Linked DNA regions of Homo sapiens: region 2 is linked to region 1. Evidence: fine-mapped expression QTL. A gene starts in region 1. The other region holds a variant in brackets. All regions are shown on one strand. Distances are between the middles of the regions.

Region 1 (9,986 bases):
CCCACACTGAGCCTCAAGAAATTCTTCAATTACAGTGCAGGCTTTCCTTCCCCGGCACTGGTTCCCACAGAGGTTTTGGCTTCAGGAAGTTGTGATTCTCTATATTACCCTGCCCAACTCCTCAATTCTGGGGACAGTGGTTTGCCCTGTGACCTCGTTTTTCTGACAGATCTAAGAAGAAATGTCACTTTTGATTTGCTCAGCTGGTTCCTTGGTGTTGACTTAAGGGACTTTTTGCAGGGGTTGTGCAGGGGACTGGGTTTCATCCCAGAAAGCTGCTACAGCCACAAGCCCTCAAATGTGCCACATCTGGAATTATGGTCTCTGAAATTGCAAGCTCAGTCCTTAGCTACAGAGCCCTCTTGGTCTGGGCTGTCAATGAGGAAGGGTCATGGGACCCCTGGCATGAGATGAGTGCCTCTGAAACAGAGAGCAGGTTCTGGGGCAGTGGACCTCTCTCCAGTACTGGCTAAATCTACCCAGGCCTGGGAACCCCAAGCACAGACATCCACAACTTCCCAGAGATGGCAACTGTGTCCACTTCCTCTTTCACAATGGAGGATTGTCCCAGTCTCATGGCCCTTTCTCCCTACAGCTACCTCACTCCTCAGACAACATAGCAGATAAGCAGATGCCCTCCTTTCCTGCAGAGTAGAGTCTGGATTCTCTCCATGAGACAGTCTGACAGGGCAGGCAATGTCCATCCCTGTCTCCCAGCCCATCTGGACAGCCCCTGCCACTTCCTCTGCTACCAGGACTCACAGGTGAGTGAGTGCAGCCTGCTCTACATGAGTGTATTTCTACATGGTGTCTCCTCACCCTCTCAGCCCATGTTACCTGCTCCTATTGATTTACATTTGGGAGCATTTTCTTCTCTCCCATCCCAGCATGAGACAAGATTTGGAACAGCTTTTCCATGAGCATTTGAGTAGACCCTTACTGGGGTCATATTGATTCCCCCAGACGTCATGCCTATAGCATGCCCCTGGTGCTGGTAATGACTCCATGATTCTAGGGCTGGGCACATGACCTCAGCTCATCATCGTCGTACTCCACCTCCACCAGCCACTGGCCAAGGTTGTCACACAGCATCATAAATTCTTGAGGGCAGAGGATCTGTTTTTTAAAATTGTTGCTATTACCAAAACACTACCTAATAACGATAATATCTAACTACTATCTATAATGATAATGGTAATACTGAATATATAACTTTTGGAGGACATGGTCAGATAGTATTAAGTAATTTGCATATATTAGTTCATTTAATTCTCATCACAAACTTATGAAGATGGTATGATTATTCTCTCCGTTGTACACTTGGGGAAACTCAGGAAACAGGGAAGTTAATAGTGACCCCAGGATCACACAGCTGGGACCCATTAGAGCTGGATTTCAGACCAGGAAGTTTTGATTCTTAAGCCCACAGTCTTACATCTTTAGTCTTCTGGAGCATCCACTGGCTCCCAGTTTCTCATGTGTCCCAAAGTCGTCCCTGGTTATCTGCACCTGCTGTGATGAGTCAGGGTGAAATATGGCAGATAAAGGAGAATTTTGGCTCATGGACTCCCAGGTTCCTGGTCCTCTCAAACATTCAGATTTTATCTATGCTTCCCCAAGTCACCTAAATTTAAATTTCAATTCTCCACGTGATTTCCACAAAAATTGTAAGCATCTGTGTACTTAGTTGATCTTTACTGAAGGATTGAAGTTCACAGGAAGGCACTTGCTGCTCTAAGCACAGATTCTGCCATCTTCCTGACACTATACTATGCATTTTTGAGTCATATACGCCCAATTCTTATTTTTGGAGACATAATACTTTATGACTCACACCTCTCAAAGTAATGTAGTAATGTGGATAGGTAAAAATAGAGCAATAGGAAAAGATATACCACAATATTGTGGTATATTTTTACCTATCCACATTACTTTGTTTGGGTGTGTCTCTGTGCTGTACCACAGGAAATTTCCCCTACATAATCACCCAGCTTACTAACTTACTATTATACTTATTTATGTATAGTCAGCTAGTCAACCTATTAAGTTTTTTTAAAAAATTTCAGCACTGATTATGTTTTCATTTCCAAAGTCTGTGTTTTGGTATTTTTTCAAGATGGTTGTTGTTACCTCATGCCCGCCTATTTCTGTTTCATATTATTACATGCCTGATGTTGGTTTATGAATTTACTTCTCTTTTGTTTTCCTTATAAGATCATTAAGTATACTAACTTTAAAGAACTTTACACATTTTGTTTTTTCATATTTGCTCAGGTGTGAAGTTCTTTTGATTGCTATTTGTTTTTGAGTTATTGTTTTTCTTGAATTTGTTAGCTGCAGTGCTGTTCCTCAAATCTTTGGTGATTCTTGCTTGCACTTCCGTCTTCCCAGGAATAATTCCCCATGTGATCATGGGTTGTCAGGGCCTCGTGGAGCATGGCACCTGCCCCAGCCTCACTATGAGGGCTGCTCCTAATTGAGGCTATAGCTTCTTCTCTGCTTTCTTCCTGAGGGATGTCTCTCCCTTCCTGCAAGAGGTATCATAGTACAACCATTAAAAGTGAAGGCTGTGGAGTGTGGCAGCCTATGTTCCAGTTCTAAAAGCCGGGTGATCTTGAGCAAATTCATTACTCTCCATGTGCCTCGGGTTTTCTCACCTGTGAAAGGAGGTTAATGGTTGAGCTTACCTCATGGGGTCAGAGCAATGATTTAATGACATTACCAATAGAAAAATGCTTGGCACCATATCTGGAGCACAGGAAACTCTCAATAAATGATAGCTGTTATAATTCCTTCATGTCATATAGAAGCCAATTGCTTGTATTCAAGTGTAATTAGACATTGATTCATATATTCTTTTCATTTTGTGTTTTCACTACTGTGGGTGTGGAGAAGGAGGGGAAGATTTCACCCTGTGTACATCTGCCACATTAAAACAGGACTTTCAATTAAAACATGATAACATTTACAATTTGATTTGACAATTATTCATGACAGATTAAGAACCTAAAACCCACATGTGAGATGAAGGATTCTGGACAGGTCTTTCTTAGTCATAGATGCTGGAAGAGAAATCATTTCTTTTAACAAGGTGGCTTTTCTAAGGCACAACGGTGGCAGAGAACCAGTGGACTCTTCCTGTACACAGAAAATAATTATAGCCATGTTTTTTTGCTTATAATTAATTATGAGTCAAGCATTCAGTATGGCTTATATTATTCCTACCATAGCTCTACAAGGTGCATATTCTAACATTTATTTACATACAATCAAACCAAGGCTCAGAGAAGTAGTGTCTTTTTGAAAATCACACAGCTGGAAATTGTAAGAGGAGGAATTAATCTATGGTTGAACAAGGAGCGGGATTTAGAGAATCCAGAGGGAGAAACTGATTTCAGGGTGGCAGCGAGAGTCCAAATACACTATATAAGCTGGGTCTCAGGAGGCCTGGGTTGCTGGGAGAAAGCCACTGGTGGGCAACTCAGCATGCAGGAGGGATCCATTCAAAAGCAACATTTGAGTTCCCGCACTTCACCTGGCACCGTGAGTATCAATAATGACCTACTGGGTTTCAGGCATGATATGCTCATTACCTCTTTAATCGTCACTAAAACACTGCACAAAAAGACTTACTATTCCCAGTTTAGGAGATTGAAACTGAGCATAGGAGGGCCCAGCGACTTCCCCAACTCCTTGGCACACACTCTTGGCAGGAGCATGGATTTTTCCTCTTTCCTCATTTCCCATCCGAACTCAGTGATGAATGAAATAGGTGCTCTGTGTGTAGAAGAAAGGGTATTGAAATTGATGCGACGGCCCCAGGAACCTGCCCACCATAATCTTCCCTCATGATAACCCTATCCCCTTTCCATAACCCACAATCCCCACCTCACTCCACAAAGCAGTTGCTTATTACCTCAAACCCAGTTTCTCTCCTGGAAGGAGTCAAGAAATAATTCCTTCTGCTGGGTGCAGGCACATGAAAGTGCTAAGGTCCACAAGAGACTGAATTTGGGCTAAGTGTTGCCAATTATAGCAATTTGGAATAGAAAATCATTTCAGGAGAAGATCTGGTTCCTCTCCAGTGTTGAGCAGGTCCTGTGAACTCTTCTCCTACGTCCAGCGGAGTGGCATTTGGTTGAGGCTGGTGCAGAACAAGACCACAAGCCAACCACATCCTAGGGTCTTGAAATAAAGACTTTAGAAAACAATACCTAACAACAGATCTTTCTTGACTTAAAAGCCTCAAATGGCAAATCACCAAGAAGACCTGAAAATGGGTTTGGGGACACGAGGAGGGAGCACAGGTCCCAGGCAGGCAGGAAGCATTATTTCTGCTAACCCTGTCTGATTATCCTGAAAATGGAGCACGATTAACTCCTTGCTTTGTAGCTGCCTACTGTGCCTGATTTGTAAGTCACAATCTAGAAGCAGGTTACTGTTGCATTCCATCATAGCCACTTCCTCTTGAATTGAGGGAGGCAGGGCTTGTCTTCTGTCTTCAGAGCAGGGCCTGACATCTCCCCAGAACAGACGTTTGAACAGAGCAGGCTTCTGAGGTCTCCAAAATGCCTGTCCCAGCCTCCTGGCCCCATCCTCCTGGTCCTTTCCTGCTTCTGACTCTACTGCTGGGACTTACAGGTGAGCATTGCATTGGGCTAGAACCCTTTCTCCCTGCTTCCTGGACCTAGCCTTGCCCCTGGACTTGCAGCAATTTCAGATAAGCACAAGCACTGCCAAGGAAGGTCAAGGACTGGACATTGTCCAAGAGCAGAAGATCAGGGAGCTGAGCACTTTCTCTGTGGATCTGCAGCTGGCTACCAGAGGCATCAAACCTTGTGAGGCTTCTGCCACCATCACAATTAGTTACATTTTTATAATATTTTATTTGACAAACACAGAAGAATCATTATTAAATCCTTACCTGTCTTGAGTCCTCCTACCCATTTTTGTGTGCCCTCCTCCTCTTTAAGAAGTTCCACATTTCATGCTTACAGCGTCCTATATTCCTTTCTTAGGGCTTCCACAACAAAGCACCACAGACTCAGTAACTAAAACAATAGACATTTACTTTCTTTCTTTCAGTTCTGGAGGCTGAATTGCAAAATCAAGATGCCAGCAGGGTTAGTTTCTACTGAGGTCTTTCTCCTTGGCTTGTAGAAGGCCATCTCCTCCATGTGTCTTGACACATGGTCTTCCTCTGTGTGTGTCTGTATTCTCATTTTCTCTTATGAGAACATCAGCCATATTGGATTAAGGCTCCCCGCCAGTGACCTCATTTAACTAAATTGCTTCACCCATTTATGCCTAGTGCTCCGTTATTGGATCACTAAGCTTGCGGGAGTTATTTATATCCTACTGCTCAAGGGCATCGCCAAGGTCTGATTTTTCAAATTAAAAAAAAATTGCAACCTCGGGCATAAATGGGTTAAAGACCTTGTCTCCAAATATGGTCAAATTCTAAGGCGCTGGGGATTGGGGCTTCAACCCATTCGTTTTGGGGGCACATTCAGCCCATAACAGGCACCACCATCTCCCTTGGTCATCTTGACTTTCCTCTGGAGAATTTATTTTCCCTTCCCCCAGGCAGACAGGATTGGGAGGTCTTTCCTGGTGCCACCTGAGAGAGCCCTGTTCACAGCTCCCAGACAGGCTGCCTGTCTTCACCCCTTTTTCAGACCATGCAGCTGACCCCCGGTCACAGGGCTGGGCACAATAGCCTCTCAGTTGCCCACTGGGCCCTGCTGTGATGTCATCTCACAGGTCTTAGAGGGCAAGGTCTCACTTTTCAAATTATTTTTTTTACACATACACTGTACCCAAATGACAGCAGTAATAGTTCAGCAATTGCTCTCTTCCTGTAAGGCAGATGCACTTCTTAGCATTTTGTGTGTATTAAGTCAACTAATCCTCACAGCATCCCTGTGTGGAAGCTATAACTCTTGTGCTCTATTTGCAAATGGGGAGTGAGGCAGAGGCAGGAACCTGTTCATTGTCCCCTACTTCAGTCCATGGAGCAGTTGGGATCAAGTCCAGGTTGACCAGTTCCAGAGTTTATCACCCTTTTAACCATGTTATGCTATGTGTAGAAATATTAGAAAATGCAGGCAAGCAAACATTAGATTAATAATCACCCATCACACCAGTCAGAAACAATCAGAGGTAAAACACTAGTGTATGTATGTTTTCCCAAAATGTTAAAAATGTGTTGGATGGTTTCTATGTGCCAAATATTTTACTGAGATTTTTAAATTTGTCATAATTGTAATTAATGCACAAAACAACCTTATATACTAACATGATAAGCCAAACTTTTATATATATTTGTGAATGTGTATATATACACATTATATACACATATATATGCACATGTGCCTATGCATGTACATGTACATGCACAGATGAGATTTCATTTTTAATCATTGGTTCTCTTTCTATTTTCAGTGAAATTTTTAACAAAATAAATATTTTATTTTATTTTTATTTGACAAAAGTATGTATACTTATGTACAACATATTAAGAAATATGCATACATTGTGGAATGACTAATTTGAACTAATAAACATATGCATTACCTTACATATTTATCATTTTTTATTGTGAGAACTCGTAAACTCTGCTCTCTCAGCAGTTTTCAAGAATACAATTCATATTATTAAGTATAAACACCACATTGTACAATAGATATCTTGAACTTATTTCTCTTATTTAAATTGAAATTTTGTATCCTTTGACTAATATCTCCCCAACTACACCCCCTCTCTAGCCCCCGATAAACACCATTCTACTTTCTACTTCTATGAGCTCAACTTTTTAGATTCTTCATACGTGAAATCATACAGTGTTTGTCTTTCCGTGCCTGGCTTATTTCACTTAGCAGAATGTCCTCCAGGTTCATCCATGTTGTTGCAAATGACAGGGTTTCCCTTTTTGTAAGGCTGATTAGAATTTCATTGTGCATATATGCTACATTTTCTTTCTCCATTTATCTGCTGATAGACACCTAGGTTGATTCCATATCTTGGCTTTTGTAAATAATGCTGCAATGGACATGGGAGTGCAGATATATGTGTGACATGCTGATGTCATTTCCTTTGGATATATGCCAGTAGTGAGATTACCAGATCAGATAAGAGTTATATTTTTAATTTCTTGAGGAACCTGCATACTGTTTTCACTAATGGCTCTACTAATTTATATTCCCACCAACTGTCTGCAAGGGTTCCCTTTTCTCCACATCTTCTCCAATACTAAATTTCCTCTTTTTGATAATAGCCATTCTTAAAGGTGTGAGATGATAGCCCACTGCGGTTTTAATTTGCATTTATCTCATGAATAGTAAGGTTGGATTTTTTTTTATACGCTGACTTGCCATCTTAATGTCTTCTTCTGAGAAATGTCTATTCGGATCTTTGGCCCATATTTTAATAGGGTTGTTTTCTTATGGTTGAGTTGTTTGACTTCCTTATATATTTTGTATACTGACTCCTTATCAGATGTATGGTTTGCAAATGTTTTCTTCCATTCTATAGGTTGTCTCTTCACTCTGTTGATTGTTTCCTTGGCTGGGTAGAAGCTTTTTTAGTTTGTTGTTAATGCCTTTTGTCTATTTTTGCTTTTGTTGCCTGTGCTTTGGGGCTCAAATCCAAAAATGTATTGCCAAGACCAATGTCATGAAACTTTTCTTCTAGTTCTTGTACAGTTTCAGATCTTACATTTAAATCTTTAATCCATTTTGAGTTGATTTTTGTATGAGGCATGAGAAGAAGGCCTAATTTCATTCCCCTACACATGGATATCCAACTTTCCCAGCACCACTTTTTGAAGAGACAGACCTTTCACCATTGTGTTTTCTTCACACTTTTGTCAATAGTCAATTGAGTGTGAATGTGTGAGTTTATTGCTGGGCTCTCTGCTCTGATCCATTGGTCTATATATCTCTTTTTATGCCAGTGCCATGCCATTTTGATTACTTTGACACTGTAGTCAATGTTGAAATTAGGCAGTGTGGTGCTTCCATCTTTGTTCTTTTTTTTTTTTTTTTTAGATGCAGTCTTGCTCTGTCGCCAGTCTGGAGTGCAGTGGTGTGATCTCAGCTCACTGCAATCTCCACCTCCCGGGTTCAAGTGATTCCCCTGCCTCAGCCTCCCAAGTAGCTGGGACTACAGGTGTGCACCACCATGCCTGGCTAATTTTTTGTATTTTCAGTAGAGACAAGGTTTTACCATGTTGGCCAAGACGGTCTCGATTGCCTAACCTCGTGATCTGCTCGCTTCGGCCTCCCAAAGTGCTGGGATTACAGGCATGAGCCACCATGCCCGGCCCCATCTTTGTTCTTTTTGCTCAAGATTGCCTTGATGTAGCATATCACATTTGGAGATTTATGAATGTTATACCATCCTTGCATTCCTGAGATAAATCTCATGTGACCATGCTGAAACACACACAGAATTTTAAAGACTTTCTTTACTGTAAACTTCAACTCATTTTTTCAGTCTATATGAAATGCACATTGAAGAGATGTGTGGTTTTCCCTATTGCCCAGCCACTCTCCCTCCTTCCTACTTCTCTAATCTTACCACTGAAAGTCCTCCAATCTGTTAATAGAAGCAACAGATAAGCAAACTTCTCTCTTGGTAAAATGCATTTTCCCTCAAAGCAGAATTTCTGTGCATTTTTATCCTGAAATTCCCTCTTCCATGAAGGTAGAAATGAGGAAAAAAATGTGGGGATACAGGTGACACAGGTCTGCCTATATTACCTATAACTATAGTTATATTTATATCCATATCCATACCCTTATCCTTATCCTTGTCATCTAATGTCCACTGAAGCCTCCAAGCCTCAGAAATCTACTGAGCAATAACTTTACAATTTTTGAACGTTCACCATGTGGCAGACACTGTTGAAAATGCCTTACCTCTTTTACTTCATGTGATCATTATATACAAGGTAGATATTCTTGTCACCTTTCCTAACAGATAAGAAAACAGAAGCACAAAGTGCTCCAGGCTCACTCATTGGTAACTGGTAGAGCTACGATTTGAACTCAGGCACTCTGACTCTAGAGGTCACAGGTTTCACCATTACTCAAACACTTCCGGTCTTGATTCTATTCCATGAGATTTCTGCAGCTGCTGCTCTTGGGTGTGGAGTGGGCAATGTGGTGTGAAGGGAGATTGTGGTTTTCTTCTCTGGGCTCTTCTACTTTCTGTATGTTTGCAAACTGATTTTTTTTCACTAAGTCCTCTACATGGGAAACTCATTTTCTGTCAAATTCCACAGGAGCAAACCACCTAAAATAGAAGATTTCAGTCTTCGAGGGAAATGTCCCACTGAGCAATTCAAACATTACACACATATCTATTGGATACCTACTATGTGCCAGGATCTGACATAAAAACATGGGGTACTTTGGTAGAATAAAAGAGAAAAAGTAATTGCCCTTTTGTTGCTTACATCCACTGCAGAGAAAGACAGTAATCAATACACATGATAAATAGGTGAATGAAAAAATTAATTTTTGACAATGATAAGTGCAATAAAAATAAAGTATGAGTAGGTGAATGTTATCATCTTGTGAAAGTATTCATATATCCTTTTTATTGTTTTCATCGTAAATAGATGTACAAATTTACCAGATGCTTTTCTGCATCAAAATAGATGATCATGTGTTTTTTCTATTTATTCTATAAATAAATATTTGTAGAATACCATATTGTTTGTCTGTCATTTGTATATTGAAACATACTCATATTCCAGGAATAAATACCACTTGTTCATGGTTTATAATCCTTCTTACATGCTGTTCAATTCAGTTAGCTAGTATTTGGTTGAGGATTGTTGCATCAACAAATCCAGTAGTAATAAGGCCACTGTCAACAGAAAGGTGTGCAGCTGCACCTGACAAATTTTAATTTTGTGTTTCAGTAGAAGTTTAAGTTCCAGTGGGACCCATTTCAGATGAGCAGGGACTGGCCTGTGA
Region 2 (9,986 bases), 23 kb after region 1:
ATACTATGCAGCCATAAAAAAGAATGAGTTCATGTCCTTTGCGGGGCCATGGATGAAGCTGGAAGCCATTATCCTCAGCAAACTAACACAGGGACAGAAAAGCAAACACCACATGTTCTCACTCATAAGTGGGAGTTGCACAATGTGAACACATGGACGCAGGGAGGGGAACAACACACACCAGGGCCAGTCAAGGGGTGGGGGGGTGAGGGGAAGGAGAGCATTAGGACAAATAGCTAATGCATGCAGGGCTTAAAATCTAGATGATGGGTTGATAAGTGCAGCAAACCACCATGGCAAACATAACCTATAAAACAAACCTGCATATTCTGCACTTGTATCCCAGAACTTAAAGTAAAATAATAATAATAAAAAGATGTCACAGAGGACTCTGTTCCCTCCTCCTTCCAAAATGCTTCCAGCTTTACCTATGATCTTATTTTTTTTTGAAAGCCAGTTGTCCAGACTTGGTGGTTTTGCTTTTATTATCATTTGAGTTTTTCATGAGCTGCAGGGAGCAGGATTTGAGCCTTTTCTTGGTGTTTCTACTCCTCTATGTTCTGCTGCCTAAAGAATAAGTGTGTAGATTCAGAAGTAGTAATGACCAAACCTCTTGATAACAGCCATAGGGCTCATTTATTAAGCACCTGCTGCATACCAGGCTCCGTGCTTGCCTTCATCCTCCCTCACCTTACCAGGGTGGGTTTTTTATCCACTTTTGGCCCTTTGCTAGCTGGGGTCCCCTCAGACCCTGGTCCTATAAGGGACTCACACGAGGACCCCCTCAAGGCAATAAAGGGAGGATTAAAGAGCTGAGAGGTACAGAGGGAGCAGCCAGCATCAGGCTCCCAAGAAGCCCTCAATAAATGGCAACTGGTTACAGCCTCTCAGCCCTCTAGGGATGCCCAATGCTGCTGGTGTCTTGATGACTTGACTTCTTCAAGTGACACCCTTCTTACTGTGCCCATAAAATGTTTGCATGTGGTAGGGAGCAAGTTAATATTTACAAATGCAAGTATGCCTAATATGTGTTTCCTGATGACTGCTATAGGAGGTGCAGGGTAATAATTAGCAATTTGGAGACACGTTTAGGACTCATCTACAGGGAGAAACTACCCTCATTTTTCTGATTCTCCAGTTTGTGTGCTTTCAGGACCCAGGATAGATTTCTGCCTGTTGGGGTGGCCTAGATCTTTGTCTCTTGTAATGAATTAACGATGAAGAAATCACCCACCTTTGGCTTTCTTAGTACTCAGTGATCATTGTTTTTGGACCCAACCTGGCCCAACTGAAGACCTAGATTCCAAGAAACCTTCCCTCTTTTCAAATTTGGGACTTGGCACAGATTAGACCTGCTAACTAAAAAAAATAATGATTGATAGGAAGGCCAAAGGAAATAGCATTTATCTGGGAAATAAAGAGTTGCAATTTGGGAACCCTGAGTCATGGTAGTCCTGAACAGTGTCCCATAGGGCAATGCAGGAAAAGTTTTGTACTGGGGACTTTCACAAAATGTTGTTTTTGAAAACAGTTCATTGCCTGGCAGAAATGCTAAACTGCAAACTCGTATGAATTGGTTACTTAATTAGGACACTCCAGGATGAGAGAAATCAAAATCCCATGTACCTTGACTTCAGTCCATTGTTATCCAGGTCTACAGCAACATCCTGTGGCTTGACCTTTAGCAGGTGTGAGTGCAATGCTCTTACAAACGCTTGACTCCATGTTAAAGCTTTAGCCTTAACTACTTCATTTTCTTTCAAAAACTGTACTGGAATATTTGTGAAAAGAATGAAAAATATGGAATAAATTCATAAATACACAAAGAGAGAGAGCTCTAGGTATATGTCAAGTCTGGATTAAAGACAGATCTGTGTTTATTTTTATGAAGCATCTTCTGACTTTGATCCAAAGCAAAACTTCTTCCATGGCCCCATTTAATCCTTGTTGCACCCCTGGGAAGGGAAAATGCTGCTGTCCCACTTTGCAGATGAGGGGCTGCATGTTCCAGGCCACCCCTCTCATGGGCTGAGCAGCCTGGTTGCAGGTCTCATGGTGGCGCCACTTTGCCATTGTTCCCTACTTTGGCTTCTGTAAACACCCTCTCTGAGGTTGGTGAGCTCTCCTGGGGAAACAGGCTAGCACCAGTTAATACACAGAGGGAGAACAATCAGTAACTTTGTTCCTGTGCCCAGATTGGTGGAAGTCACCCTATGTGGAGAGGAGGACTTTGAACTCAGACCTGGACTTCCCTCTGGGACCTTTCCCTACACTGTCTGACCTGGGGCTGGTCGTCACCTCTTCCAACCTTTGCATCCTGCTCTGTAAAATGAGAATAAGAACACCATCCTCTCCACATTATTAGAAGGATTAAAATTAATGTATCTGAAGGTTCTTAACAGTGTCACACACTCATCGTTAGTGATTGTCATCTCAGTCATGTCTCCTGTTTATCGATGCCCCTTTTGTAGCCAAACCCTCTGCCCCCGTGGTATTGGGCCCTGCGGCGAGGACCACACCTGAGCATACAGTGAGTTTCACCTGTGAGTCCCATGGCTTCTCTCCCAGAGACATCACCCTGAAATGGTTCAAAAATGGGAATGAGCTCTCAGACTTCCAGACCAACGTGGACCCCACAGGACAGAGTGTGGCCTACAGCATCCGCAGCACAGCCAGGGTGGTACTGGACCCCTGGGACGTTCGCTCTCAGGTCATCTGCGAGGTGGCCCATGTCACCTTGCAGGGGGACCCTCTTCGTGGGACTGCCAACTTGTCTGAGGCCATCCGAGGTAGAGGACCCTCACACCCAGCCCAAGCCCACACCTGGCTGTCAAGCCCACTCCCCTCTCCCCAGGCTGTTGCTCCAGAGGTTGAATGGCCTGTAATCTAATCCCTGACTATACTGCCCGCCCGCCATGCACCTAGGTGTGCTGGTCACTTACTATCATTTTATTGGCAGCGGTCAGGGGACCAGCAATCACGTGCCAAGCTCTGCGCTAGAGAGTTTCATTTATCTCACCAAGAACAACTACTATTAGTGAGTACCTACTATGAGCCAAGTCCCTATGTGCTCGGCGATTTCACTGATTTTGCTACAGTTCTTACATTCCAACTGCATGCCAGGGGTTGTGCTTGTAGATTTCACTCATTCTTAGCCTAGTAGGAGCTACCAGTCCTTGAGCACCTACTGTGCACCAGGCACTGTGCTTGGTAATTTCATTCATATGCAAAGAGCGCCCTCAATGTCTTAGCATCTGCTGCCTGCCTAGCACTGTCCTGGTGATGCCCTCACCGTGGTAGTGGGAGTTAAGTTATGGAGCCCTCCCTGTGATCTGTCTGTGCCAGAAGATCAGAGCTTCTACCCTGTGCTGTTTCAGTTCCACCCACCTTGGAGGTTACTCAACAGCCCATGAGGGTGGGGAACCAGGTAAACGTCACCTGCCAGGTGAGGAAGTTCTACCCCCAGAGCCTACAGCTGACCTGGTCGGAGAATGGAAACGTGTGCCAGAGAGAAACAGCCTCGACCCTTACAGAGAACAAGGATGGTACCTACAACTGGACAAGCTGGTTCCTGGTGAACATATCTGACCAAAGGGATGATGTGGTCCTCACCTGCCAGGTGAAGCATGATGGGCAGCTGGCGGTCAGCAAACGCCTTGCCCTAGAGGTCACAGTCCACCAGAAGGACCAGAGCTCAGATGCTACCCCTGGTGAGGTTACTCAAAATTTTTAAATTTTGTCTTTTTCTCTCATTTTAAAAGTAATATCCACACTTGCTGTAAAATAAGCTAGAAGTCTATAAATACAAAGTAAAATTTTAATGTCAGCTCCATCCCCCCAAATCCCACATGCGAAGAGTCATGACTAGTAAGAATTTGATGCACAAGTTAATAGAACTTTTGACATAAATATATGTTTAATTTTTTTTTTTTTTGAGACGGAGTCTGGCTCTGTCGCCCAGACTGGAGTGCAGTGGCGCGATCTCTGCTCACCGCAAGCTCCGCCTCCCGGGTTCACGCCATTCTCCTGTCTCAGCCTCCCGAGTAGCTGGGACTACAGGCGCCCGCCACCACGCCCGACTAATTTTTTGTATTTTTAGTAGAGATGGGGTTTCACCGTGTTAGCCAGGATGGTCTCGATCTCCTGACCTCGTGATCCGCCCGCCTCAGCCTCCCAAAGTGCTGGGATTACAGGCGTGAGCCACCGCGCCTGGCGTACATAAATATATATTTAAGGAGCAAAGAGGCAGGCAGGGGGAACCATCTTCTCATAGAGTCCTTTGCCTTCCCTTATTCCTTGAGAGTTGTTGTGCCCGTTTCTCATCAGCCCACCCTTGTGCTCCCTACTTTTTCTAACCTCTGCTTTGTTTCTGTTTCATCCAAACTTTTCCATCC[T/A]CATTTATGACCTCATCCCAGTACACCCTGACATCTGCTGTGTATGTTTCAGAAAGACAAATGTAGTTTAAAACTGTACCAGGCCTGGCGGCTCACGCCTGTAATCCCAGCACTTTGGGAGGCCGAGGCGGGCGGATCACGAGGTCAGGAGATCGAGACCATCCTGGTTAACACGGTGAAACCCCATCTCTACTAAAAATACAAAAAAATGAGCCGGGCGTGGTGGCGGGCGCCTGTAGTCCCAGCTACTCGGGAGGCTGAGGCAGGAGAATGGTGTGAACCCAGGAGGCGGAGCTTGCAGTGAGCCGAGATCATGCCACTGCACTCCAGCCTGGGCGACAGAGCGAGACTCTGTCAAAAAAAAAAAAAAAAACTGTACCAGGCCTGCAGGTGACCATGAATGGTCACAGAACGGACCTCTTCTGTGTCCTGATTGTGATATTTGAGCAACAATAATCACAAACCCCTCTGCAAATTTACTAAGTGCAAATTTCCATTCATCCATGATCTCTGTTTTTGCTTCAACCACCCAGTAAGTCTGGAGTTTTAAAGAAGGGGAAACTAGGACTTGGGAAGTCATGGGGGATGTTGTTGAAGACCTCTTGCCTTTAGATCGGGTTATTGGTTCAAACTAATTAAAGTAAATCTGGGTCCCTGAGGACAAGGTCAGTATCAGCCTAAAATGCAAATTTGTGCTAGTTAGAGAAACAGTCCTCTTCTGCTGGGCATTGTCCCATGGACCTGAAGTTGGCCTGTGTTCCACTCCGTATGACCAAAATATGTCTTACTTCCCTCTTGTGTAATACCAGGAGGAGTCTCAACTCCAGGAGACTTTTCAAAGGCCCAGGTTCCTCCCACATACCTTATGGTGGTTAGTCTTATCTGCTGGGTCAGTGCTAGGTCACGGATTTTTCCATGTCCCTGTCTGCTGGAAGAGTAAATATAGGAAATGGAGGGCAAAAAATATCTTCTATAATCAGAGATGTATGGAAGGCGTGTGATCATGTCCACAGCTAACTCAGTCATGCATGTACACGCAGTTCCAAATGGAATCCATAGTTGGGTGATCTTATGACTAAAGACAGCATAACAAAACCAGTATCATTATTACAGTTAATACAATTTCAAATTTTTAATCACTAAATTTCATAAAATTATTAAAACAATTCCCTTATATCATCTAAAATGGAGTATACATTCAAATTTTCCTCAAATTTCTTTTATGACTATCTTTCTGTGCACTAAATTTGGTTTTAATTCATATTTAAATGCTTTGCAGTATTTTTCTTTGAAACACTTGGGCCTCAAGAATTTTTGGGGGTGTTTTAAAAGTATAAATTCAATTTCCTCAGTAGTTTAGGGTTACTCATATTATTCATTTCATATTGGGTGAGTTCCGGTAACTCGTGCCTTTTGAAGAATTTTGTGTCCATTTTATCTAAGTTGTCATATTTTTGTGTGTAGAGTTGTTCATAATATCTCCTTATTATCTTTTTGGTGTCTGAAGGGTTATGGCGATATCCCCTGTTTCAACCTCATATCTAAAATATGCCATTTCTGTTTTCTTCTTCATCAGCCTTGCTATAGTTTTTTTCCATTTTATTGGTCTTTTCAAAGGACCACTTTGTTTCCGTGAGTTTTTAAATTGTTTTTGTGTTTCCAGTTTATTCATTTTTTGCACTCTTCTTTTTATTAATTCCTGTCTCCTGCTTGCTTTGAGTTTATTTTGCTCTACTTTTTCTAGTTTCTTGAAGTGGTGATTTAATTGACTTGAGGCTTTTGCTCTTTTCTATGTCATTCCTTTGCCTCCGTTTATGGCTGGGGCTGGTGTTGGGGGATGGGTCCCAGGTGCCTGGCTGCAGGGCTGTCCCTCAGTCCTGAGGCCCCTAGTCAGTCTCCCTTCTTCCTCTCCCACCTTGGAATTTCTCCTATTCCTGATCCTTGTGATGTTTCTAGGGTTCATAGTTTTACTTCTCAGGGAGGTAAAACTGCACCATCAAGACTGGATTGCATTTGCTTTTCAGTTATTCATCCACCCACTGGCTTGGACCAGGACCAGGGCTGGCATTTTTGGGTGCTTTCGGTTTGCCAGATGTAGCATCTTTGCTCAGGTACTAAGGCTGGAAATGCATTTTAAGTTGTCTAGGCTGGCAGGTAAAATGCAAGATGCCTTGTGGTTACATAAGTGCTGCACCAGTGGCGTGGGAGCCGGGTAAGAGACTGTGCACTAGGGTTAGGTGAGTGTTCTGTTTTGACTCACGGTCATTTTGCAGTTTGGCTTTCTCTCTTCAAGTAATACTGAGAGCCAGGGTTGTGCAGAACTTACTTTGTTTTCATTTTTTATTTGATTTGGGGAGGATATTTTATACAGATAAGTAGCTATGCTGCTGCAATTGTACCCAGCAACTCTTAAGTCAACCGAAGATCTTTGAGTGCTTTGACCCAAATGTCCACTCCCACATCTCAGGGTCCCACAACTTCCCCATCAGGGCCCTACCCCAGCATAGCAACCGTTGAAGCTGAGATTCATCCTCCTCTGTGATTCTGCTACTCTTTTAATGATGTCCAGGGCCCAACCCTCTATTCTTTCTGCCCTCTAGCCACAAGAGATAAGAAAGTGCAGTGCTGCCAAGAAGTCCTCTTGCTTTCACGCTGAACCTTAACTCATAATCAATCACTCGTAGCTTCTCAGCATATTTCCCCAAAAAAAATATGCCCAGTGATAGCCATGGAACAAGTTAGTCCTTATAACTACCATTTCCCAATTTGTTTCAAAAGCCTGATGCCAAGGAATTTCCTGCCTGTGGTTACGCCATCCCAGCTTACTGCCAGTGAAAGTTTTATCAATTGCATCCCAGCCATGGTGCCCAGCCCCACTCACTGCCAGCCCTGAGGTCCTCATTGCGAGCTGATGAGTATTCAGGCTTCAAATTTATATTTTAGAGTAAGCTTTACAGACAACTTACCAAGGTCAGTTTCTCTGTAAGGCAGACTAGAGATGGATACAGGAATGCAGGAAGCATCCTGAAGAGCTGTAGGGTCAGCATGCCTCAGGAAATGGGGAGGCAGGACTGTAGGAGGAGCGAGGTGCTGAGCTACAGTGCAGGTAGAACAAAGACCCAGCTGCTCCTGCGGAGGATCCCAAGGGCTGAGAGCGTCATGTAGTGTTTTTTAATTGAGGAGAGAAGCGTGGCCTTCCTATTTTCAATTCAGCCAATCTTTCTTGTGGGCTGTCCCCTAGAAGGAGGAGTGAACTTGGAATTGGGCAGTGCAGCTTTCCTCAAGGGAGAAGAAGTCCCAGAGAGCCACCCAGCTGAGAACTGCCGGCCTCCAACACCCCAGCAGCCACAGATGCTGAGTTCTCCATTTCTTCCTTAAGGACCCACCAGCACCATTTTATTTATTTAAAATATACTGTAATATCTTTAATGGCCCAAACTGCTCGCGTTAAAAATGTTGATTTTAAAAGCCTGAACTGCTCATGTTAAAAATGCAGCGTCCAAACATGTGCTTCCCCGTAACTGAGTGTGCCCAACTAACAGAAAGATTTCAGATGACACCTGCACTGGGGTGGAGGTGGCCTAGGTGACATCTGAGGCCCTCCCAAGCATGAGACCCATTTCCGTGACTCACCAGGATGTTTTCTAGCCGGAAGGTTTCATTATGTCCAGTGTTCCATGGCTCCTCCAAGTTCTGAGAACACGGAGTCCTCCCCTTACTTCTGGGGCTAAGCAGGGAACCTGCAACTCTCATTGTGAAGCCATCCTCAAGCCACCTGCCTACCCTTTTATAGTCATTAAAATGTCCCTAGGAATTTGGACTTGTTTTGTTCCAAAGGACATGGTCTCAGGGATCAACCTAAGGAACACTAGTGATGAGCTTCTTTAGGTTTGAATGCAAGTAACCTTGTGACCCTCCCTAAAATCCATGGGCCTCAGTTTCCCTAGCAGAATGGAATGACAATCCCTGCTCCCATAGGCTTGTGAGGGTCAAGTGAGGAACCCCGTTGCCACATGTATGAATACCTGAGTACACACCCCCTCCACCTCTTCCCTCCAGGAGAATAAGCTGGCAACCTGGGACAGGATGAGTGAGAATGGGGAGCCTCTTTCTGTGGCTTCTGCCTTGTGCTGGAGTGAAGATAGCCTGGGCAGGATGCAGGTTCAAAGGTGGGGCATAGATGGGCCCAGGCAGCCTCAGATGGGGTAAGTGGAGGCCCCTACAATGGCCTCCCAAGTGGTCTCTCTCATAGCCCCTCGTCTTCCCTGATTTCCAGGCCCGGCATCATCCCTTACTGCGCTGCTCCTCATAGCTGTCCTCCTGGGCCCCATCTACGTCCCCTGGAAGCAGAAGACCTGACTGTAAGTACAAGGAAGGGAGGACAGACCAAGGGCTGTCTCAGAAGGGCAAGGCCAACAGGAAGGCCCAGCCCACATGCCATGCAGCACCAGGGTCCGTGGAGTTAAGCTCCCTCCGCACCCTCGGAAGTCTTGGGGAACCCTTTAAAAGGCTCCCAACCCACAGAAATTATGTGGGTGGTGTACAATGTGGGATGCTTGAAATGTGTTCAAAGATGTCCACAGTGCCCTAGGAGTTTCATGGAGGCAGTGATGAGTGGGTGGTCCCTTGCAGGCTATCTGTAGATTATTTGAATGCTGGGACTCCATGGGGTCAGAGAAATCCACATTGTAAACTAATGTTGAGAAACCCAAATGGGAAGCCCTGAAGGCTGTTTGTGCTCTGACCCTCTGTGTGTCTGAGTGGAAGGAATATTGGAAAGGGCATCAGGACTTGGCAGGATGGCTGAGCAGGCAGAGTTCTATCAGGACTGCCTGTCCACCAGTGACAGGTATCCCAGGAGACCAGCCCCGAGAACATAACAGACTCTCAGGAAACATGTCTTGAAAGATGAGCAGATGACTAAGTGTGGATGTGTTTTCCTACAGCTCCTTCCTTCCTCCCCTGCCACGTGGGACCCTCATCTCTGCTGCCTCCTTCCTTTCCTGAGAGGCTCAGCTTGAGAGAATGAGCCAGTGAGAAGCTTCTCTAGACTTGGCTCCAAACATCTCCCCTCCCAAGACATCTGCCTGCCCACAGGCTCCTGTTGCTCCTTCACACAGACCTGGATGCCCCAGAGCAAGGTCTTCATTCATGGTCCTGAGCAGGTGCCATGGGATTGGGCTCTGGGCACTGACTTAACGGCACCTCCCTAGAAGGCGAGAAACATGCCAAATCTAAACACACCAGGACTCCCATCCATCGCCTTGAGACTGACCGTAAACCACAGACGCTCTCCAGGTTCTCAAGAGTTATCCTGCCTTCCAGATTCCTGCCTATCCCAACTCCCCAGCCTTGTTGAGGTTCTCTATTGCCTCTTGAATACAAATGCACTCCCAAAGTGGTTTTAAGAAAATAAAAAGATTATCCTTCCTCTTTGTCTAAGGGTCCTACTCCTCACACTCAGAAACAAAGAAGCTCTCCCTGCTCTCTCTGTGATGGGAACACTAGTTCTAGCATCCTGCAGGCTTCCCCGCCCTGCTGCTCATGGCGGAAATGCTGCCGCAGTCCAAAAGCCTCCTTGACTCCCGAATC

Evidence for each region. PIP is the estimated chance that this variant, and not a neighbour inherited with it, causes the effect.
Region 2: its variant is fine-mapped to the expression of SIRPG in whole blood (TOPMed, PIP above 0.99).

Annotation. Positions count from the first base shown.
Region 1 is chr20:1,652,297-1,662,282 of GRCh38, reverse strand. It overlaps SIRPG (signal regulatory protein gamma), which reads left to right and starts at 4,504. Exons shown (of 6, transcript NM_018556.4): 1 at 4,504-4,641. The coding sequence starts at 4,569.
Region 2 is chr20:1,628,991-1,638,976 of GRCh38, reverse strand. It overlaps SIRPG (signal regulatory protein gamma), which reads left to right. Exons shown (of 6, transcript NM_018556.4): 3 at 2,472-2,789; 4 at 3,378-3,710; 5 at 8,671-8,755; 6 at 9,341-9,825. The coding sequence ends at 8,753. It overlaps SIRPG-AS1 (SIRPG antisense RNA 1), which reads right to left and starts at 5,469. Exons shown (of 3, transcript NR_110090.1): 1 at 5,257-5,469; 2 at 1,627-1,771. RefSeq lists an enhancer at 3,062-3,887. The variant T/A (reference allele first, on the strand shown) is at 4,395.